Regions from separate parts of the Homo sapiens genome. Here region 1 is linked to region 2. Evidence: fine-mapped expression QTL. A gene starts in region 2. The other region holds a variant in brackets. All regions are shown on one strand. Distances are from middle to middle.

The links.
Region 1: its variant is fine-mapped to the expression of MRPL23 in aorta (GTEx, PIP above 0.99).

The regions. Positions count from the first base shown.
Region 1 is chr11:2,106,057-2,118,270 of GRCh38, reverse strand. No RefSeq gene overlaps it. Among named protein-coding and RNA genes, the nearest start is that of MIR483, 22 kb to the left of the region's middle. RefSeq lists a silencer at 3,633-3,903. The variant G/A (reference allele first, on the strand shown) is at 7,073.
Region 2 is chr11:1,942,584-1,953,779 of GRCh38, reverse strand. MRPL23 (mitochondrial ribosomal protein L23) reads right to left here and starts at 6,448. Exons shown (of 5, transcript NM_021134.4): 1 at 6,401-6,448; 2 at 2,759-2,881; 3 at 1,571-1,653; 4 at 925-998. The coding sequence starts at 6,417. SNORD131 (small nucleolar RNA, C/D box 131) reads right to left here and starts at 4,449; the gene lies at 4,304-4,449. RefSeq lists an enhancer at 3,782-4,519.

The sequences.
Region 1 (12,214 bases), 160 kb before region 2:
CCATTATTATGGCCAGAGGAAGCAGGAAAGGAGCTGGAGGCAATCAAAGTCGCTGGAGAGTGAGATGAGACTCTCAAAAAAGGCTAGAGAAGGGCCTTTTATGTGTCAAATCTGCCCTGGTTTCTGGTATGGGGCAGAAAGCAATCTGAACTGAGACTGGGACTCCTGTCACCTCAGGTGAGACTCTTTGCAACTGGCAGCTAATCAAGTTAATTGCCTGCTAAAACAAATGCATCAGTGCTCTCCAGACAAATACAGGACATTTCAGAGTCTCCAACAACATAATATTCACAAAGTCCAGGAGGCCATCCCAAACTGTATGACATATGTCAGGGCCAGAAACCGGTATTTTCTTCTCAAGGGAAGACAATTGACTGAGGCCAGCCATGATGTTGGAATCATCAAACAAGGCCTCTATTATAACTATGCCCATGAAGATAAAGAAAAATACACTTTCAGTGAATGAAATGACAGGAAATTTCAGCAGACCAGTAGAAAATATTTAAAAATATCTAAATTGATGTTTTGAACTGAAAAATACACTCTCTGAAATTAGTAAAAAACAAAATACTGGATGAAAGGATCAGTAGTGTAGAGAGGACAGAAGAAAGTCTGTGAACTTGAAGACAGAGCAATAGAAGTTATTCAACTCAATACGAAAATGAGAGAGAGAGAAAAGGCTTTAAAAACATGAAAAGAGACTCAAGTACATGTGAATAGTGTTAAAAACTTAACAGATGGCCAGGTGCAGTGGCTCACACCTGTATTCCCAGCACTTCGGGTGGCTGAGGCAGGCAGATCACTTGAGGTCAGGAGTTCAAGAGCAGCCTGGCCAACATGGTGAAACCCCATCTCTACCAAAACTACAAAAATTAGCCAGGCATGGTGGCACGTGCCTGTAATCCCAGCTACTCGGGAGGCTGAGGCAGGAGAAGCACTTGAACCCAGGAGGTGGAGGTTGCAGGGAGCCAAGATCACACTACTGCACTCCAGCCTGGGTGACAGAGTGAGACTCCATCTCAAAAGAAAAAAAAACCCCAAAAATTAATATATAGGAAATTGGAGTTCCAGAAGGGGAGGAGAGAGCAAATGGAGCAGAAAAAAAAATATTAAAGAAATAATGATGAAAAAGTTCTCAAATTGATTTTAAAAACATAAACTTATGGATTCAAGAAGTTCATCAAAATCTGAATAGGATCAATTTGAAGAAACAAAATCTGAATAGGATCAGTTTGAAGAAAATCATGCCTAGGCTCATCAAAGTCAAATGGATAAAAATGAAAATTAAAAAAGAAAATCTTGAAAGAAGAGAACAAGGCACCACATAGCAGGGAATGGTGAATTGAATTGCCACAGACTTCTGGTCAGAAACCATGGGGGCTGGAAGACAATGGAATAACATTCCTTAAACCCTGAAATGTGCTATCCCTTTGGCTCCTGTGGCCACTTGGTCCAGTTTTACTGTCCCGTCATTTTGTTTTCCTTGTTGCTCTCCCTTCCATTAAGCACTGGCCTCATCCTGGCCTGGGCTTCCTCTATCCTTCCCTTCCTCCAACTTCACCCCCTGGATGAACTCTTCCACACCACAGCTTTGATGATGGCATATGTCCTGAAGACTCCCAAACGTGGAACTCTTGTTTCGCCCTCTTGAGATTGGGCACGTAGATCCAATGCCTGCTCAGTTTATCCACTAGCATGTGAAGCTCTTCCTCCCATCTCAAGGAATAACCATCCCAGCCCCTCAGTTGTTGACACCAGAATTCTGGGTGTTAGCAGTCCCCATCTCTCTTACCTTCCATCACATCTAATGAACCTGCTATCTGGCAAGTCTTAGTCCTTACAAGCCAGCCTTCACTCCAGAAGTTTCCACAGACAGGGTGTCACCCTGTGCTACCTGCTGTACATCTGTTCTATCACTTCATCCTCAAAAGTAGAGCTATTCTCCGCATTTTAATTGATGGCCAACTGAGAAAGACAGGGACCTGTTGATGGTCGTTCCATTGTTCTTGAGTGCCCCAGGTTAGCCACTGTGCTGGGCATTGGCCACGTAGCAGACGGGCAACTGCAGACTCACAGCTGGAGGCACAGACAGCCAACAAGGAGTCCATTGCCCTGATGGCATGATGTCAGGCTGCGGAGAATAGCAGGGCCGTGGGGTTGCTCACCCCAGTGCCCCCAAGTCCTCCTGTGGTCAGGCAGTACCCACGCCATCTTGCCTCCCAAGGCTGAGGCCAGAGATGTTTGTGGGCCTGTGTCTTCCAGGCAGTTCCCGGCCTCAGCACAGTCATCTCTTCCTTCCTCTACCAGGTACAGCTCTGGGTGCAGGTGAAATGGAAGCAGCCTCACCCTCCTCCTGCCCAACCCTGGCCAGCTCAGAAAGCCACTCAGAGAGGCAGCCCTAGGGTTTGCCTCCACTCCTCACTGCTGACCTGAGGCCAAGGGCAAGCTGTTCTGAGGCTTAGGACCCTCTGGCACCAGCTCTAGACCCCACCTGGGGTCTCCCTACTGCCCCAGGTCAGGCCTGAGGGCTTGCTTGAGGGTACAGTTTTGAACTACGCAGGTGGAGGACCCAGCCTGCTGCCCAGCTCTCCTGCCTCCCCAGACTCTGGGTGTGAAGGTAGGGCTTTCGCATCACATTTCTCCCGCTCATGGGGCTGGGCGTACCGAGAGCCCTCTGTGTGTGTCTCCCTAAATGCTCCCCATGTGTCAGGGGCAGGCTCTGTGCTTACCAGCCCCACCCGCCAGGTAAGAAGACTGAGACCGCAGCCGGCGAGTGAGGGGCAGGCCGGGGTTACTCAGGGTGCGACCAGGAGGCTGCCCTGTGTGTGTCCCCTCTGGGCCATTGCTCTGGCCCTGGTGCCCCTCCCTTCCCCTCTACGCCTCCTCCACCAGGCATCTCCCCCACTCAGGCCCAGGAAACACCACCTGGAGCTTGGAAGATCCCTCAAGGAAGGAGGGCGGCTTGGAGGAGGGAGGCCAGTATCCTGTGTGCGGCCTCCCTTCTCTGTCTCCCAGAACAGGCCAGTCTCCGCCGCTGAACCCACCACTGGGCAGTGGCGAGGAAGGGCTTCTGTGGTGCCCCAGCAGGACCCCATCAGGTGTGGCTGGCTCAGGGCTGAGTCGTCTCTTCTTTCAGCTGGGCAAGATCCTCCCACTAGGGCCCAGTTCCTGTCTGAACGCTGGGTCCAGGCCAGGGCCCGTGTGCCCAGGGGTGTCTGGGTCAGGCCCTCCATGCATCCCTGTCCTGGGAATGCCGGGGCATGAGTCGGGGAATCAGCTGGCACTGTCTCAGAGCACGAGCACTTCCAGGCGCTCAGGGCAGACGGCAAGCCCAGCTTGGGCGAGGCCTTCCCCTGAGCGCCTCTGGGCCTGGGGGGCTCCCTTGTGGAAAACATGGGAGAGGAAGCCTGAGGGGGTCGGCTCCTTACTCCTGGTCTTTCCCGCTCACCCAGCGCTCCCCGGAAACTCCTTCCTGCAGCACTGGGATCTGACATCCCGGCACGTTCTGGAAAGTTCCTCACTGAACGTTGTGCATGAGAAGAAACTTGGGGCAGGGCCCGTCCAGCTAGGAGGCGTGCACCCGCCACTCTCTGCTTGTGATTAGCAAGGAGGCGAGGGCTGTGCTCTCTGCGGTTCACCAGGGGGTCAAGAGAATTCCCAGATCCAGAGGAATCCCACTGCTGCCAGGCCTGAGACAGAGGGCCCTACGGGATGGCTGCAAGCTCGTGGGATGGACTGCAGGAGGCCGTCCTGGCCTGGGCGAGTAGGAGATAAACCACTGCCAGATAGGAGACCGTGCTGGGTCGGGGGATCTGCCTCTGCCAAGTTCGCAGCCTGGTGGGGGAAGCCAAGGAACATACGGGATAGTAAGGAATGGGCAGAGGGAGCCCCAGGAAGTGAATTTCTCTAGTCTGGGCTGGTCGGTGAGGGCTCCCTGGAACCTTGAGGAGAAGCTCCAGGAGAATCTAATGGGGAGGGTGAGGTGGTGGAGGGTGGAGGGGGCAGGGGAGAGGGCAGGTCTATGAACGGGGCTGGGAACCATCCCACCAAAGCCTCCTGACAGGGTGGTGTGGCTGAGTTTGGGGCAGGAGGTGGGACTGAGCCCAGGTCTCCCAGCCCATGGGACGTGGGCCAGCTGCCAGTCTCACTTAAGAATGTCCTTGATGAAGCATTAAACTTTATTAATTCTATTAAATCTTGACCCTGGAGTGTGTCTTTTTAATATTCGCGGAGGCACGCTCAAAGCACTCCCACTGTAGCCGGAAGCATGCCAGCGTCCCCAGGAAAAGCTCCTGCACAGTGGTTTGAGTTGCAGGCTCAATGGGCTGCGTGCACCGCTTTTACTGAACCGGCGACCGGCTGGATGTTTCCTCAGAGAAGAACAAAAAGATCCACTTAGAGAAAAACAACTCCTGGATTTTGCTGTTGGTGACCACCTTGGAGCTTTCATGCAAACAGCAGAATTTTGAGAAACTTACAACTGCCCCCTTGAACCAGACGGTTTTCCAATCCTTAAAGACCTTCCTGAGGAGCCTGGTGGGGACAGTCACAAATGTAGTTTTCCATAACAATAAAGAATGGCATCCACTCCTGGAAGAGCTGCCTGATTGTGAGATTGATATTTTCCAAACGATCAATGCGGAACGTTACAGAGGCACACACAGGAAAAGATCCTTGAGGCCGAGGCGGGCGGATCGCTTGAGCCCAGGAGTTCAAGACCAGCCTGAGCAACATGGTGAAACCCTGTCTCTACAAAAAATGTTAAAATTAGCTGGGTGTGGTGGTGCATGCCTATGGTCCCAGCTACTGGGGAGGCTGATGTGGGAGGATCCCCTGAGCCTGGGGAGGCTGAGGCTGCAGTGAGCCATGATCATGCAACTGTAATCCAGCCTGGATGACAGAGCAAGACCCTGTCTCAAAAATAAAAATAAAAACAAAAAAGAGGAAAAGATCCTTGGAAAGTGCAAGATACACCAGTTGACTCGTTCCATAATACACCTTTTATTTTGGAACAATTTCAAGATGACAGACGAGTTGCAAGGATTGTACACACAGCCCCCCTCGCCCAATCCCCCTTTGTTAAGGTCACACCTGACTGTGGTATGGTTGTGACAATTAAGAGTGTGACATTGCTTCTCGACTTATTAATGTAACCCAGGCTTCATCTGGAGTTCACCAATGTTTCTGTTCACATCCTCTTTCTGTTCCAGGATCCCATTGAGGGTCCACGGTGCATTTGTTTATTTTGTTTTTTTTTTTGTTTTGTTTTGAGACGGAGTTTCTTTTTTTCTTTTTTTTTTTTTGAGGCGGAGTCTCACTCTGTCACCCAGGCTGGAGTACAGTGGCACGATCCCGGCTCACTGCAAGCTCCGCCTCCTGGGTTCATGCCATTCTCCTGCCTCAGCCTCCCGAGTAGCTGGGACTACAGGCGCCCACCACCACGCCCGGCTAATTTTCTGTATTTTTAGTAGAGACGGGATTTCACCATGTTAGCCAGGATGGTCTCAATCTCCTGACCTCGTGATCCACCCACCTTGGCCTCCCAAAGTGCTGAGATTACAGGCGTGAGCCACCGTGCCTGGCCACATTGAGATGGAGTTTCACTCTTGTCGCCCAGGCTGGAGTATAGTGGTGCAATCTTGGCTGACTGCAACCTCCACCTCCCAGGTTCAAGTGATTCTCCTGCCTCAGCCTCCTTAGTAACTGGGATTACAGGTGCCTGCCTCCATGTCCAGCTAATTTTCATATTTTTAGTAGAGACAGGGTTTCACTATGTTGGCCAGGCTGGTCTCGAACTCCTGACCTCAGGTGATCTGCCTGCCTCGGCCTCCCAAAGTGCTGGGATTCCAGGCGTGCACTACCACGCCCAGCCCCGGTGCATTTGGTTATGATGCCTCTGTCGTTTCCTAAACTGAGGGACTGTAACATCACGGAGTCTCTAAAGGTCATGGGTTTCAGATTCTGCATTGCAGCTAAGCTTGAAGAAATGACACTTGTCAAGTTTTGGTGTAGTAGCAAAAAGAAAATCTACAAGCGCATAAGGCCATTAAAGTACCAGCGCCCCCCACCCCCCACTCCCAACCACGTATGTTCGTAGATGTCCTCATCTACATTCTTCCCATGCGCTGGCCAAAGCCTGCAGAGGCGTGATGGGAATCCGCTGCCTTCCAGCAAGCCACAGAGATTCGCAAAGTGCAAAGACATCTCACTCTTCTCACGGAACTTGCTTTGTTTTGAAAAGCCTAGTTGTCTTTTGTAAACAAATATTTTATGTTAATGTGTAGTAGTGAGTTTATTATTGCTGTTGTGATTTTACTGTTTTGTGTTCATTTGTTTCATATGGTTTTGAGTCAGGGTCTTGCTCTGTGGCCCAGGCCGGAGTGCAGTGGCACAATCCAGGCTCACTGCAGCCTCGACCTTCCAGGCCCAAGTGATCCTTCTGCCTCAGCCTCCCGAGTAGCTGGTGTGTGCCACTATACCTGGCTTTTTTTTTTAATTAAGGATATTTTAATGGCCTTATGTGCTTGTAGATTTTCTTTTTGATTACTCCTCCTTGTAATTCCAGCACTTTGGGAGGCCAAGGTGGGAGGATCACTTGAGCCCATGAGTTCAAGACCAGCCTGGGTAACATAGCAACATAGCCCAGGCTGGTCTTGAACTCCTGGGCTCAAGTGATCCTCCCGCCTTGGCCTCCCAAAGTGCTGGAATTACAGGCATGAGCCACCATGCCCAGCCTCTGTTGTGACTTTTAAATTAATTCATTTAACCTATTTTTAAAATTTCTAATATTTTAAATATTGAAATATTTCAATGTCTTAGTTGTAACTTCTAAGACAGTAAATATCAGCAGGGGTGACCCCGTATCAACCCACTCTCTTTAAGGACTTGTTCATAACTTTGGGGAATGCAAGAGGCCCTGAGGCCGGAACATTTGAGAACCGAGGTCGAAGAGCCCAGGCTTAGGGGCCAGTAGCTGTGCTTATAATTAGCAGAGGGGCAAGTGTTTTGACTGTTTCAAATCCTGGAGTGTTGCCTCGCTTTTCTGTTCCTCAGTGTCCCCCTGTGCAAAAGC[G/A]AGCACCTGAGCACGGGGCTCCCACCGGATGCGCGTGTAAACAGCCTGGCTCGGGTTTGTTCTCCACAAAGGGAGCTGCTGAGAGTGGCATTAAAAAGTGATGGACAGACGGTCCTTGGACAAGAGTAAAACTGGGTTAGGACTACAGAAAAATCACATGGAAAGCACAGTGAGTTCCCATGGACCTCCTGCCTCATGCGTCCACCACAGTTTCCCCTGTTATTCACATGTTGCAATATGTGGGCCTTCTCTTAGAATTGACCAGCCAGCACCAGCACACACTGAGGTCCAGGCTCACTCTAGGGGTTGTGCATTCTATGAGTTTGGACGCAAGTTATCATGCCCTATATCCACCATCAGACTATCAGACAGAGTAGTTTCACTGCCCCCACAGTCATGGTTCTGCACCTCTTCCTCCCTCTCTTCCTGCAAACGCTGGCAGCCACCGGTCTTTTCACTGTCTCCATAGCTTTGCCTTTTCGAGGACGTCATAGAGGTGGAATCCTACGGGCGTAGCCTTTGCAGAGTGGCTTCTCTCACTTAGTATCATGCATTTGGTGCTCCTCCATGTCTTCTTGCGGCTCACAGCTAACTTCTTTTTAGCACCGAATAACATTCCTCGGCATAGAGGTACCGCTGTGTGTTTACCCACTCACGCACTGAAAGATCTCAGTTGCTTCCAAGTTTTTGGTGATTATGAATAAAACTGCTATAAATACTTGTGAGCAGGTTTTTATGTGGATGTAAGTGTTCTCTTTGATTGAATTTTATTACAAATTACTAACACATTATCTCAAGACAATGCCTGAGGCAGCTCCTCTGTGCTCCTCTGCTGGAAGGGCTTCTGAGATCCTACGCTGTGGTTTTAAATTGTAGCGTTCTTTTTTTCTGGAGTTTTAATGTTCTTTGTGTAGGTTGCTGGTTCCACTTCCAGACTTCCACTTCTCCTCCCCAGCCTATATCTCCATCTTTGCATCAGTACCGTGAGGTTTTAATTATTGTTACTCTAGAACATGTTCTAACTTCTGGCAGGCTAAACTTTTCTGCTTTAAGCCCCTTCTATTTTAAAACATTTCTTTAAAACTTGCCTCACATCTTCCTTTCTGAACCTGGCTCACAGAGACCCCTTCCCCAACTCAATGCCACCAGAGTGAGCTTCTGCAGGCCTCAGCGCCCCAGCTGGGCTGTGGCAGCCCTTTGAAGGCCCTTGACCTGCCCAGCATGGCTGCCAGCTCCTGCCCACTCCCATTGTACCCCATGAGAAGCCCAGCTAGTTTGTGTGCTCTGGGCTGGGTCTTGGCAGCCTGGGTGGAGCAGCTGAGCCCACCGTGGCAGAGAAGGGTGTGTGCTGGGAGCCCACCCTCCTCTGACCTGCACGGCTCCACTGGTCAAGCGCGAAGCCCAGGGGTTCCTGGCGGGGGAGTTGCAGCCTGGCCGTTTCCTGGAGGGCTGGGACTGCCCAGCCCAGCCGAGGGCCTGGCTGCAGCGCCACCTTCTAGGCAGCCCGCATGCTGAGGCCCCAGCCCTCCCCTCATGTTCAGGGAAGACCAGCTGCTTCCTGTTTGTGTGAAGAATTCGGCTGTTTTCCCGAGTGGTGGGTGAGGGTCCAAGCACCCAGTGGGACGGTCGCTCCTCGTTTCTGTGGGGCCTGCTGTTCTGAGGAGAAACTTAATCACTTTGTTTTCTTGGTTTAGGTTTTGCTTTTTAATAATAAAAAAAAAAAAAGACCCAGCTTGTCTGCAGCCCCAGGGCCCTGTGACGTTCCTGGCATAACAGGCGTTACTTTTACACGGGCTGCTGCAGTGGGCGGCTGGCCGGGAGCTCCCGGGGAGGGCAGTGGGTCTCATGGACTCGGCCCTGCCCAGCTGGGCGTGGGCACCGCTGCCCGAAAGTGGGGGGGTCTGAAGGAGCCGACCCCTGCGTCCCGTGCTGGCTCAGCCGGGCTCCCTGAGGGCCCTGACCCTCTCCCAGCCATGGGTCAGTGCTGGGGAGAAGGTTCTCAGATGCCGGGGAGGCCTGGGAAGGAGAAGAGCCTGCAGGCTCCCTCAGCAAGGGCTGGCAGGTCTGGGAACCGCCAGGCCACCTGACTTCCAGGGCAGCCCCTCCGGGAGTCAACACCCGCCCCCTCTCCCAGAAACCCAAGCCAGGAAAGATGGGGGACAGAGCCCTGGCACCCCCACTCTTTCTGGCACTCTCCCCTCAGAGGCCTCAGCTGCTGGACAAGGTCCTGGGCTCCCTGGGTTGCCCTCTTGGCCCAGGCTGGGGATGGAGAACAACGTACAGTCGGTGCCCTGGTGTCCCCCAGGGCCTCAGGATGCCTCCCCCACCCTCCACCAGCTGTTCTGCCTCCCAGCCGGGCCCTTCCCTATCCCACCCAAAACGCTGGCTCTACCCTTCCTGCCCTGTGGCTGGGGAATCTGCAGAGTCATGGGGCCAGGGAAGGGGACAGTAAGGAGGGACCCCTCGTCTATCTCAGCACTGGAGGGGTTCAGGGTCCAGGGCTACCCCAGAAACAGTCACTGTCTCACTGAAGAGCTCCAGGCACACCTTGCCCCTGGCGCTCAGGGTGGCCTGAGCTGAGCCTATTGTGGGGAAGGAGGAGGGGGCTGGAGGTGTTGGCTGGGCCAGGTCACCAGGTGTCGGCAATGGAACCACAAGAAGATGGTCAGTCTGGGGCTACCTTGCCCACTGCTTCTCTCACTTCATGTCATTTGTGGAAGAAAGAAGAGCATGTCAGCTGCAGGTCATGGTAGCCATGGGCCTAGATCTGCACTTCCAGGAATTCGGCCACTGTGCGGCCCCCCTCACATTAACAGGATGGATTTGTGTAACCAACAGTGGGAATGACGGCGGGTGACTTCTGAGGCCAGGTCATAATTGACACTGCAGCATCCTTCTTCTTCCCCCACCTCTCTCCCTTCACTCCCTCTGGGGAAAGCTGGCTGCCATGTTGTGAGGATGCGCAAACCTCAGAGGTTTGTGTGGAAGGACTGAGCATCCCTCCGACAGCCACACTAGGTTGCCAGGCATGAAGGGGACACTTCAGTCCAGCAGGACCTTCAGATGGCTGGGGCCCAGGGCTGGTGGCTTGGCTTGGGGTGTCAGGGGGTGGCAGCCAAGCCAAGCCACAACCACCAGGCTAAGCTGCTCCTGTACTCCTGACCCACAGAAACTGAGATGATAAATATCCATCACTTTAAGTCTTTATTGTTTTAAGTTTTGGACTAATTTATTCTGCAGCCATAGGCAACGAACACCGTCTTCTGGCAGGGGTGAAATAGATGCAACTAGACCAGAGGGGACAAGGCTGGTGCAAGGAAGGCTTGTAAGGACGGAGAGTTGGAGGGGAGCTCAGGAGTCCTGGCCTTGGGTCTGGCCTGGCTCTGAGGCTCAGCAGCTGTGAGCGCTGGACAAGTCTGCCTCCCACCCAGATTAGCCTGGGTGATGAGTGTGGTGTGTGGCAGAGGCGAATAGCCTATGATCACACAGGGAGGACCAGTGTGAGTCACACAAGGGACAGCAATCAAGGGTGACATTGGAGGAACTTGGCTTGTGGTATGGGTACAGGGGACACCAGGGAAGCCTGCAGATGGCTCAGAGTGGCCAAGTCCCCAGAGCAGGCACAGAGGAACAAATCAGAGCATGGCTCAAAACAACGGGCAGCCAGCACCTGCACAGTCCAGCTGGGTACATCTCTTTTTGCCCTTTCAACACCTGGGGCCCAGCAGTTGTTCTCAGGTCAGTGTGAGTGGTCTGGGAAGACAGCTGCCCACCTGGGCCTTTCCACTTGGCTACGTTCCTGGCTGGCATTCAGAGAAAGGGCATCCACCCATCCATTCATCCATCCATGCATCTATCCATCCATTTATCCAGGCATCTATCCATTCATTCATCCACCCACCATCCACCCATCCATTTATACACCCAGTCATTATCCATGTATTCATCTATCCATCCATCCTTTCTTCCATCCATCCATCCAAGCATCTATTCACTCACTCCTACATGTATCCATTTATCCATCCATCTATCCATCCATCCATGCATGCATCCACCCATTCATACACCCACTCATTCATCCATGTATTTATCTATCTATCCACCCATCCATGTATCCACCCCTCTATGCATCTATTCATCCATCCATTCACCCACTCATTCATACATCCACTCATTCACCCATGTATCTATCTATCTATCCATCCATCCATCCATGCATCCACCCATCTATGCATCTATTCATCCGTCCATTCACCCACCTATTCATACACCCACTTATTTATCCATATATCTATCTTCCATCCATCCATGCATCCACCCATCCATGCATCCACCCACCCATTCATCCATCCATCCATCCACCCACTCATTTGTTCATGTATCCATCCACCCATCCATCCTTCCTTCCATCCATGCATGCATCCATCCATCCATCCATGCACCCATCCATGCATCCATCCATCTTCCTTTCCTTCCTTCCTTCCTTCCTTCCTTCCTTCCTTACTTCCATGAATCCATGCATCCACTTATCCATCCATCCATCTGTTCATCCATCCATCTGTTCATCCACCCATCCATGCACCCATCCATGCACCCATCCATGCACCCATCTGTGCACCCATTCATCCTCCCTCCCTCCCTTCTTCTCTTCCTTCCTTCTTTCCTTCCTTCCTTCCTTCTTTCCTCTTGCCCTCCCTCCCTCTCTTCCTTCCTTCCTTCCTTCCTTCCATGGATCCATGCATCCACCCACGCATCCAGCCATCTACCCAGCCAACCATTTACCCATCTACATACCTTTCTAGCCCCCACCACATACTCACATGGACATCTGGGGGAGAGCATCTCATGGCAGGAGCAGCGGGTACAAGGCTTGTAGAGAGGTGATGTGGCGTCTCTGAGGAGTGGTGGATAGGGAGGAAGCATGGGTTGTTGAGAAACACACCTGAGAAACCAAGGGGAGCTTGCCCAGGAAGGCATCAGGAAGCCCTGAAGGGGATGCAGCTTTTTCTTGGAGAGAAGTGGGGCTAGTGGAGGTCTCTGCTTAGGAGTGAAGGGATCCTGTGGCTGCTGAGTGACCAGAGTGCAAGAGGAGAAGTGGAGGCACCTGCTGGGATACACACAGAAGGGAGTGACTGGGAGGGA
Region 2 (11,196 bases):
TGCCTCCTTAGCCCCACAACAGGCCGGCTGGCCCAGGAGGCGGTTTCCACCATCGTGTGACTGCCATCTAGTGGCAGGGCCCGCCGGCTCGGCCTCCAGGGACCATTTACACCGGAAGACAACCCCATCCCCACCCAGTAAGGCCAGCCCCAGGGGCAGAGTGGGGAGGCCCAGGAGGCGGCCGGGGCAGGCTGTGGACATCTTGGCCCAGAGAGAAAGTGCCTCTGGGTTTGCCTGGGACTCAAAATGAAGAGCCCAAAGAAAGGCTTTGAAACTGTGGGTCTCACTCCTGACAAGTCTGGGTTTCAGAAACTGAAGGCCCAGGCAACGTGGGGTGAGGGTTCTTCCTCCCCAGAGCCCCCCAGGATACGTAAGAAAGCACCTGCTCAGAAGCAGCCTGCTGAGCCCTAACAAGTACGTGGGACCTGCTACCCTGCAATGCAGGACATGGGCCTCAGCCAACAGCCCGGCCAGCCAGACCTGCCTTGGCACCAAAGACCTTTGCCCTCAGGGGCCTCACACTCTGCCTCCGAGGCTGAAACCCAGCCAAGGACAGGCTCTCCAGAGGCCGGGGCCTCCCATGCTCTGACACCCTGGTGTGCGTTGGAGTTGAAACCCACTAGGCCTGTGATGGCTGCCTTTGCCCACAGAGAATTCAAACTTCAAAATCACAAAACGGCCGGACGCTGAGACGTGCCCCATGTGCCCCAGTGCTCACGTGCTCCCAGCGCCACCACTAACACCCCCAAGGCCGTGACGGAGCATGACCTTATGTGGAGCCTGCCTCTGCGCTGAGGCCCTGAGATCCGGCCTCACGGGGGCTCCCTGGGCCCCAGCGCAGCGTCTCCGGCACAAACATCCCCAAGGACACAGTTGCGAGGAGCCCCTCGGAGGCCCCGCTGGGGCTGGCCAGCTCACACGCACCAGCTGCACGTAGGCGACCTTGTAGTCCGGCTTCTTGATCCTCACGTTTCTGTGATCTCTTCTCTTGTTAGAGCCTGCCGGAAGGGAGTGAAAAAAAAATCAGAACTTTAAAAAAATCAGAACTTTAAAAAATTACATCCTCAGAGGTCAATGCCACTAAAACGAACCTCTGCTCTCTTAAAAATGTAAATATGTTTTTAAAAACTCAAAAAGGCGATTTCTCAGGGAAATGGGCACTGTAATCAAACGAGCCAGCACAGCAGGCTCCCAGGCTCCTCCCTTCTCCCAACAGAGGCCAGCAGGTTCTCAACAAAGGAGCGGACGTGGCACCAGCCAGGGCACACGACAGGGGCTTATGGAACAGACAGCGCTTTGCTCCCCAGCCTCAGCCACTGCAGTCCCACCTCGGGGGCTGACGGCAGGAGTCAGGGCTCAGAATGGACCCCGGGCCAGCCCAGTTGAATTCCAATCCCTGCTCTGGCACGTAAGCACCGTGTGACCCTGACAAGTCACCCTGTGCCTCAGTTTCCCATGAGCCACGTCAGACCAAGACCCCCATGCAGTAGCTGAGGCTGTGGCTCGGCGAGGTGGGCATGTGGCACAGATGGGCACGACACCAACAGGAGAACCTCCCATGGGCACTCACCATGCTGCACCCGTGTCCGCACAGCAGCCACGGGCACGTTATAGATGCCCTCGAGGTAATTCCTGAGGTCCACCCTTGTCATTCTGGAGGCGAAGGAGAAAGAAAACGGCATCTTAACCAGGCTAAAAGCCAAAAATACTGTCCCAGATGCACAAGCACCCGAGGCTGAGAGGCCGACAGACCAAGACCCACAGGGGGCAGGGAGGAGGGCTGGGTACATCAGCGGCACTAGTGAGGCCAGGCAGCCCCAGCAACACCAGTGCTGCTGGCTGCAAGACTCCCTACTCTGGGCACACCAGCATGGGGTGGCAGTGGCACAGACCCCACAGAGTGGGAGCACTGCCCAACCAACCCCTGGCCTGCTCCACAGCCCCACATGGCTCCCTGCTCCGGGCAAGTGCCTGTGAGAGGAGGTGACAGTCTCTGCACGCTCCTGGCTGGCAGGTGCCCCACCTCGTCTGCCCCGGGGCCCAGTGGCCGCATCAGGGTTAGGCCTGCTCTGCGGCTGATGGGACTGATGCGGTTCTAGGAAGTACCTTCTGGAAAGGCCTGCCTGGCATTCGGTGCGTTAACTGCAAGTTCCCTCTACTGCAGAACCTCACGGTCACTGTCAACTCAGCTTCTGGGCCCCTGCAGGCTGCACAGGCCTGACCTTCGCCCCCAGGGGAGCTCACGCTGCTGCCCCGCCTGGCTCGCATCAACCCTGAGCTGGGGACCTGTGAACTTAAACACTGCAGAGCAGCACCCCAGTTTTGCTCGTAGGGACTGTGCATTTCTCTGAAGGTCAAGCAGGCTCTTCTGAGCGGTTCTGTACATCACGGCCTGCTCCCAACCCAGCCTCTCAGGGCGCCTCTCCTAAAAAGAAGCTGCAAGAACTCAACAGAAGACGCGAGCACAGAGGTCCAAATTTTAAGGCTTCCAGTGAAGCCGTCCCCGGGTGGAGGGCGGCGTGCAGCCTGCCTGCCGGGCTCCACACCTACAGGCACTCCATCAATACTTGCCGGGCAGGGCCGCCTGAGGTGCCTTCCCAGCAGGAAGAGGCTAGCACGTGAGCAGAGTTGTTTTAACTCAGGACCCAGGCCCCCCTGAGGGCACTCTCCCAACCCAGCGGGAAAACTTCCGGGCTCACTCCACGGGGATCCCCCCGAGGGTGCTCCCCAACCCCAGCCGGAATCCTCCCGGACTCACTCCATGGGGATCCGGAACTGCACGGTGTCCTCGGGCTGGGCCACACCGGGCCGCACCAGCTGAATGAAGAAGTTGGTTCGGAACACCCGAAGTTGTGGGCCACCCAGCCGGTACAGGGGGTACCTGTACAGAAGAGATTGGGTCCATGTCACACACTTAGGCCAAGGCAGCCCGACACACCAACCCTGCAGACCTCCGAGTGTCCACTCACAACAGGGTGGGCAGAAAAGGGGGTAGCTAACACTGCGGATCCCTGAGTGTCCACTCCCAACAGTGGTGGGCGGGAAACGGGGTAGCTAACCCTGCAGACCCCCGCGTGTCCACTCCCAACAGTGGTGGGCGGGAAACAGGGTAGCTAACCCTGCAGACCCCCGCGTGTCCACTCACAACAGGGGTGGGCGGGAAACAGGGTAGCTAACCCTGCAGACCCCCGCGTGTCCACTCACAACAGGGGTGGGCGGGAAACGGGGTAGCTATCAGCAGGTCACCACCCAAGGACACAGAGGTCCCCACAGCCCCTTTCTCACATGGGCCTGCCAAGGTGGACGGCCAGTCCCTAGCATCGACTTAAGGAGCATGCGCTGTTGACCCCCAAGGTCAGACTTTAGAAAAGGCCAATGGACAAAAATCAGAACCCCGCAGACAGCATTCCCCCAATAAGCTGATGGCAAGGCTCAAAGACGTGTGTTGGGGCACTGATACCCCTGGGAGAGCAGACCCCACGCGGCCGGCCCACTCTCCTGCTGCTCGGGTGAAGTGGAGCTGCAGAGAACCACACACCATGGGACAGAAAAGGCCAGCTCCGCACTCTCCCGGTGGCAGCAGGGCCTAGCTCCTCGGTATGGAGAACGCAGGCTAACCAGGCTTAGGCTCCTGGAAGACGGTGCTGCCAAGACTCTGATTCAGTACACTAAATGTGAGTTGAGTGCACCACACCCCAGCACTCCACTAAAAGCCAGCAGAGGCAGATGGAGAGGTGCCAAGTGGCCACCGCAAACTAGACCAGCACGCTGCCTGGGCTGGGGGGCCAGGTGACGATCGTGCAGAATCTCTAGCCAGTTGGTTTCGTGCATTCTCCCACGTTCAGCTGGGTGGACAGGCAGCACCGTCCTACCGTCCCCCACCCCCGTTCCCGCCCCTGCCACTGCCGGCACACCCTGGCTCTATCTGGGCCTCAGAGCTGGGGGGAGGAGGGGCACAGGAGAAACTCAGGCCTGCTGGGTCTCGGGGGATGTGGGGTCTGAGAGCCTAGGTGCAGGTCTTGGTGGACGGGGAGCACAGGGGCTCTTGAGGGGTCTCTGGTGGCCTTATCTGAGGCACTGCACATGGCCCTGGCCTTGGGAGCACCCAGCACCAAGTTAAGAGGGGCTCCGTGAGGCCAACGCTGCCCCAGGCTTCACATGAATTTCACGCTGGCCTCTGCCTGTCTAGGGAAGATGAGGAGGAAGTGAGGGTCAGAGGCCTTGGGTGGGGTGTTCCTGAAGGGCCAACAGTGGTAGGCAGCACTGAGCCTCTGGGCCTGAGGGCCTGGCAGGGGCCAGGAGCTGCTGGGACCTCTCAGAGGCAAGGCGCCTGTAACAAAGCCCGATCACTAATCATGTCCACCCCAGGCCTCCTGATGACCACACTGACACATGGCAGCCTGGTGGCCGGGCCAGTGGGGCTGAGTCTTCACTCACCCAACCCCAGCAGAGCCTCCTCTTGGGCATGGCCTTGGCCTTTCCAAGCCTCAGAGTGCAGCCTTCAGGGGTGGGCCCCAGTGAGAGGCCGAGAAGAAAGGGTGGGCTCTGGAGGTGGAGGGGCCTGACTTGTTTTACCCACAGGTTCAGGCTAGCCATGGCCACCCGAGGGGCTCACACATTCCCTCTGGTGACCAGCTGTGGGACTGCAGGAGTGGAGACAAAGTTTGGGGACTCCCAGTAAACAGTAGAAAAGAGGGTTCAACAGCTCCCAGGCCATTAATTTTCGAGTCTCCAGGCTTGGGGCCTGAAGGGCACACTTTGCTAAGGGTCTGAAGGGCCATGTGTGGGCTTGAGATGAGAGGCTGGCAGGGGTTGGGCCAGGACGATTCACTGTCCTTGTTCCCACAGGCCGAGCCTCTCCAGGCTGGAGCGCCAGCTGCCTGTGCATGGAGCCTGCAGATCTGGAACAATCTGCACTGTCGACACCCAGGGCCCCAGGACAGGGCTCTAAGGCCTCTCTTTTGTTCTCGAACCCTTGTGGGCCCACCAGCCCTCAGTTCCCTCAGTCCCACTCTCCCCAGGGAGCACCCCAAGCACTCCGCATGGGATTTCACAAGCACCTCCACGGTAACCTATCTCAAGTAGAACTCTGCACTAACTTCTTCCTCAAAACACAAAAACCTGGCTCACTGCCACCAGCCTGCCTCCCCACGGCCCCACGAGTGACTCACCCAGGATCCCACCCTCTCGGCACCCCCACCCCAGCTGCATCCAGTCCACAGCAAGTCCAGTCAGCGCTCCCTGCAAAGGCTCCCTGGCAACAGGAGTGTGTGCACTGCTGGGCGAGCGGGCCCCGCTGCCTCCAAGGCAACCACACCTGATCCGTTTCCAGGGGCCCACCACCCTTGGCCCTTCAGGAACACCCCACCCGGGTCCTCTGACCCTCACTTCCTCCTCATTCTCCAGGGACAGGCGAAGGGCCAGCGTGGAATTCACGTGAGGCTCAGGGCAGTGTTGGCCTCACTCAGACCTTTTCTTCCTTGGTGCTGGGTGTTCCCCAAGGTCAGGGCCACGCGCAGCACCGGTCCCAGGTGTCTGCTGAAGGAAGCCTCCTCCACTGGGGGTCCCACCTGCCACCCTCCCCTCTCTCCCCAGCTATGTGCAGGGGCCTCCAAAGCCACACCCTGGCCCCTTGACCGTCCCTCTCCAGAAACACTGATTACTGTTCTCCAAAACCCACCCGGGAGCCCACATCTACTGATTACGCCTGAGTCATTCGTTCACCAAGAAATATGCAGGGCTTCCTGCTTCAATTTGGGGAGGGCGAAGTGGTGCAGGACAGCGCCCCGATGGCCCCCTGGGAATCCAGAGAACATGCAGAGTGGGCGTGGGGGGTCTGGGCTGAGCAGAACCGGGCCTCCCGCCCTGCCTGCCCCAAAGCCCTGAGGGCTGCGGTCAGCTGCCCTTTCCCACTCAAACCCAATCTGGATTCCCAGCTCCTCTGCCTCAGGCCGCGCCCGCGCTGCGGTGGGGGCCGCCCGGGCCTCCCCGCCTGGACCCAACAGCCGACGTGGCCCCCGCCCCGTGACGATCAGAAACGTCTCCAAACAGCTCCCTCGGCCCTGGCTGCGGGACCAGCCCCGGGCCTGACCCCGGGCCACCCTCCCACTCCCCACGCGGGGGCACCGTGGCCTCCATGGGTTTGGCTCGGACCCTCTGTCCCCAGCCCGGCCACGCCCGCCCCCTGGGGTTGCCCTAAACCTGGCGGGGGGCTCCTCCGCCACCCGCCTCGCGTGTCTCAAGGCATGACAGGGGGTCCCGGAGAACCCTGCCTCGCCCGGGCCAGGAGGCGGCCCAGGGACGCCCACCCCGCTCCCCGGAGTCCGCGCGCCCTGTGGGGTCCGTCTGCTTGTGACACTAAGGGGCGCCCCGCGACGGGGGGGTGACGACCCCTACTCACACCACATTCCGCGCCATGGCGGCCACGCGCGCTTCCGGGGTCCGCGAGGCGGAAGGAGCAGCGCGCCCGCCCCGCACGGCCGCCGCCTGGCACAGCGCCCCCTCGCTTCCGGAGGCCGCGCCGCCCCCCCCGCACGCGCCAGCGCCCGTGCCGCGCGCCCGTGCCGTCCCCAGCCCTGCGCCCGCCCCGCCCCGCGCCGCCTTCTTCTCCCTCCCTGCCCCCCTCCTGTCCCGCACCCCACGTTCCTCCCCGCCCCGACCCCCACTCCCCGCGCCGCAGACTCCACAGGACGCGGGGCCGCAGCAGTCCCGCCCCGCACTCCCGGCCCCACAGCCTGAAGCCCGGGCCCGCGCCCCTGCTGCTCGCGCCCCGCCCACGCCCGCACCCCTCCCAGCCCCAGAGACCTCCCGCCGCCGTCGCACTCTTTCGGGCCTGTCTGCCCTGCCTCCCGGGACCCCGGCCTGCACGCCCCCCACACCCGTGCCCCTGCCCTTTGGCAGCTCCAGGCCACAGCCTGGCCCCGCACCGCTGCGCTTGCAGCTGCTGGGAGCTGGAAGTGGAGAACCGGGGCTGTAGTGCTGGGGAGGGCGGGTCCCCGGGCCTGGGGTCTGAAGCCCCTCTCTCCATCTGGCTGTTTTTACCCGGGAGCCCGGAACCCCAGGGCCCCTCACCTCGCCCTTCTGGCCAGCCCGGTTGGCAGCCCCCACGCTGGCCACACCAGCCACGCTGTCCATCCTCGGTGCTCCCACCACGCCTCCTCCAAGAGGGCCACTGGCCTCTTCAGGCCTTGCCGTTTGCTCACCCCCTCTCCACCCTTCTGGCCAGCCCCCTCCAGCCTCTGGCAAGGCCCTCTCTACAGGGACCCCCGTCCAAGGCCCAGTCCTCACTCCTTTCCTTGGGTAGTGCTGGCCAGGAGGGCTGCTGGGACCCTTCGGGAGTAGAGGGCAGCAGCCTCCCTCCCCTGTCCCCAGGCCTCTCCCTCCTCCCCTGGTTTCCTCTGCCTGGTGGCTGGATTCAGGCCACTTCTCCATCTATCTCTTTAACTGCCCGTGCCCCCCACCCCCAAGCCTGGCTTGTTCCCGCACCCAACAGCACCCTAAGTGTTCTTCAGAGCAAGAGGCAGGGGTGTCATGCTTCAGAGCAAGAAGCGGGGCCATGGGTCCTGGTTGTTGCTGGGGGCAGGGGGCCCAGGCCTGCAGGTGGGAACAGGGCTGCGGGAGGGCACTGGGGTTGATGGAAATTCAGGAGGAGGAGAGGGCACTGTGCCCCTCCGAGGGCCTGGGCCGGGTAGGGCTGGAGTTCCTCCTGATGGGTGGGTTTGAGTGGAAATGACTCCAGGGGGTCTATCTAGCATGAAGGCATTGAAGCAGGATGGAGTGAGAAGTGGGCCAGAGTGGGCAGGGAAGGTGGTGGCAGCCGTCCCCACTGTTGTCCAGGCCTGCGTGAGGTGGAGAAGCTCCAGGCTGCCAGTGGCAGGGTCCCAGGAGGCTGGTGACCAGACAGGCCTTTGCCCAGCAGCAGGTGCCCTTGGCCAGGCCCAAGGAGCAGACCGCAGGACAGGGATGGAGCTGGAGAAGGGGGGTCCTGGGGCCGGGGGTCCTCAGGCTTCCTTTTATGTTCATGCAATGCTGCCTCTTTCGGCAGCCACATTGTGCAGTGTGCTTAGAGATATGTGGCTGCTGGAAGTTGGGTTCAGAGTTGTGGGTGGCCGATGTGGAGAGGAGGGTGATTGGAGGCCGAGCTGTGGGTCACGGGTGGGTGCTGCTCAGATCACTGGGGCTGCTGGAGGGCGGCGGTTGAGCTAGGAGCTGAGGTCCTTCCTCAGGGCGAGGCAGGGGTGGGGTCACAATGGAGCAGACCCCTCACCACTCCTTCCATCCCTGTTTCTCTGATAGTCTGCTAATGGGATCCTCCGGAAGGCATGCTAAGTATGGGGGGTCTCTGAGATGCCTGGGGAGCCAGTGGAGACCTCCTCTTCCTCCTTCCCACCTGCCATTGAACACAAATGCCAGCGCGGCTTCCGCTCTGCCTGCCTCTCCTGAGATCAATGGTCTGCACGGGGTTGAGGCTGCCAGATAAATACAGGCCCAGTTAAATCTGAAGTTCAGATAAACAACTAATAAATTGTCATTTTATTTTTATTTGTTTATTTATTTGAGACAGAGTCTCACTCTCACTCTGTCGCCAGGCTGGAGTGCAGTGGCGCGATCTTGGCTCACTGCAATCTCTGCCTCCCGGGTTCAAGCAATTCTCCTGCCTCAGCCTCCTGAGTAGCTGGGATTACAGGCGTGCGCCACCATACCCGGCTAATTTTTGTATTTTTAATAGAGACAGGGTTTCACCATGTTAGCCAGGATGGTCTCCATCTCCTGACCTCGTGATCCGCCCACTTTGGCCTCCCAAAATGCTGGGATTATAGGCGTGAGCCACTATGCCTGGCCCTTATTTTATTTTATTGTATTTTATTTTTTATTTTTTGAGACAGGGTCACGTGTAGCCCAGGCTGGAGTGCAATGGCACAGTCTTGGCTCACTGCAGCCTCCACCTCGTAGGTTCAAGCAGTTCCCCTGACTCGGCCTCCCGAGTAGCTGGGATTACAGGTGCGGGCCCCCACGCCCAACTGATTTTGTATTTTTAATAAGGATGGGGTTTCGCCACGTTGGCCAGGCTGTTCTCGAACTCCTGACCGCAGGTGATCCACCTGCCTCGGCCTCCCAGAGTGCTAGGATTACAGGCATGAGCCACTGCACCTGGCCCAATAATTGGTCCTTTTTAAGTAGACCTTATCTTTTAGAGGAACTTTGGGCTTACAGAAAAATTGCTCAGGGAGTATACAGAGTTCCCACAGACCCCCTCTCCTTGAGTGCCCCTCCATTATTAACATCTTGCATCGTGTGGTGTGATCTGTTCCAATTGATAAACCAATACTGATGCATTACTATTAAGTCCAGAGTTTACCCCCAGGTTTCATCCTTGCAAAATGTCCTTTAGCCACCACTATGGTGTCACACAGAAGTGTCACTGCCTGAAAAGCTGCCTCTGCCCTGCCTGTGCATTCCTGCCTCCCCCGGCCCCTGGCAGCCCTGGCTCTTTCCACTGCCGCCTTGGCATTGCCCTCTCCAGGCTGTGGTATCATTGGAATCATACAGCACGTAGCCTTTCGAGATTGGCTTCTTGCCATGAGTGAGATGCAGCTAGGGCTCCTCTGGGTTTTTTTGTGGTTTCATAGTGCATTCTTTTCGGGCCGGATATTGTTCCATTGTCTGGATGTACCTCGGTTTATCCCTTTGCCTACGGAAGGACTTCTTGTTTACTTCCAAGTCTCGGCAGTAATGAATAAAGCCTCTGCAAACATGTGTGTGCAGGTTTTAGGGTGGACACAAGTTTTCAATTCATTTGCAGAAACACCCAGGAGGGCCATTGCTGGTTGTATGGTAGGAGGACGTTTGATTTTGTAAGAAACTGCCCCGCGGTCTTCCAAAGTGGCCGCACTGTTTGGCGTTCCCACTGCAAAGGTGGTGCTTCCTGCTGCTCCACGTCCTCAGCAACTTCTCATCGGTGTGTCGGGACATGCTCTTCTGCTTCCACCTGCTAGACCTGAGCCAGGAGCCCCGCTGCAAGGGCAGCCCCTAAACTGAGCTTTGCGAGTCAGGCTGGGGGAGCTGGGGCGTTTTTACAGTGAGGGTCCCTGAAGGGTTTTAAGGGAACGTACGAATTCAGCTGGGAAAGCACTTTCAGCCTGCAGATGAGAATCAGGTCGTGGGGGAGAGGGGCCGTTCACACATACACTCACTCATTCATTCATTCGTACAGAGGGTGGGGGGAGGGGCTGTTCACACACACACTCATTCATTCATTCATTCAGAGGGTGGGGGAGGGGCCGTTCATACATACACTCATTCATTCATACAGAGGGTGGGGGAGGGGCCGTTCACAGATACACTCATTCATTCATTCATACAGAGGGTGGGGGGGAGGGGCCGTTCACACATACACTCATTCATTCATTCATACAGAGGGTGGGGAAGGGGCTGTTCACACATACACTCATTCATTCATTCATTCAGAGGGTGGGGGAGGGGCCGTTCATACATACACTCACTCATTCATTCATTCAGAGGGTGGGGGAGGGGCCGTTCACAGATACACTCATTCATTCATTCATACAGAGGGTGGGGGGAGGGGCCGTTCACACATACACTCATTCATTCATTCATACAGAGGGTGGGGGAGGGGCTGTTCACACATACACTCACTCATTCATTCATAGACTCATTCATTCATCCCGCCAATAAACACACAAAAAGGTGCAAACACTTGTAGCGAAATCACTGTAAGCACAAACCAGTGAGCCACCATGTTCAAATGCAGGTTTTCAAAGATTAGGAAGAAATGGCAACCCCCTTGTTTTACCCAGCACCTACTTGTGCCAGGCCCTGGCTGCAGATCACCGGCTCTCACTGTCCAGGAACCAGACAGCCCAGGGGAGGCCAGACCCAGGCACCAGGATCCCTGGGGCAGAGCAGGCAGGACTCACAGGAGAGGCACAGGCAGCTCAGAAGGGTTGTTGCCAGCCCTTGCCCATCCTGCAGGCCACAGCGTGGACCACAAACCCTCCTTGCCTGCGTCCAGCATCCTCAGACCCTGTGTACCGGCTGGGTGACCATGGCTCTGGGAATGTGGCTTGCTCACATCCACAAAGCCATTGTGCATTACACCAGGATAGAACCCAGAAGACACCACCCCCCCAAACAGCCTGCGGCCCTCCCCAGAGCTGTGATAGACACACCCATTGC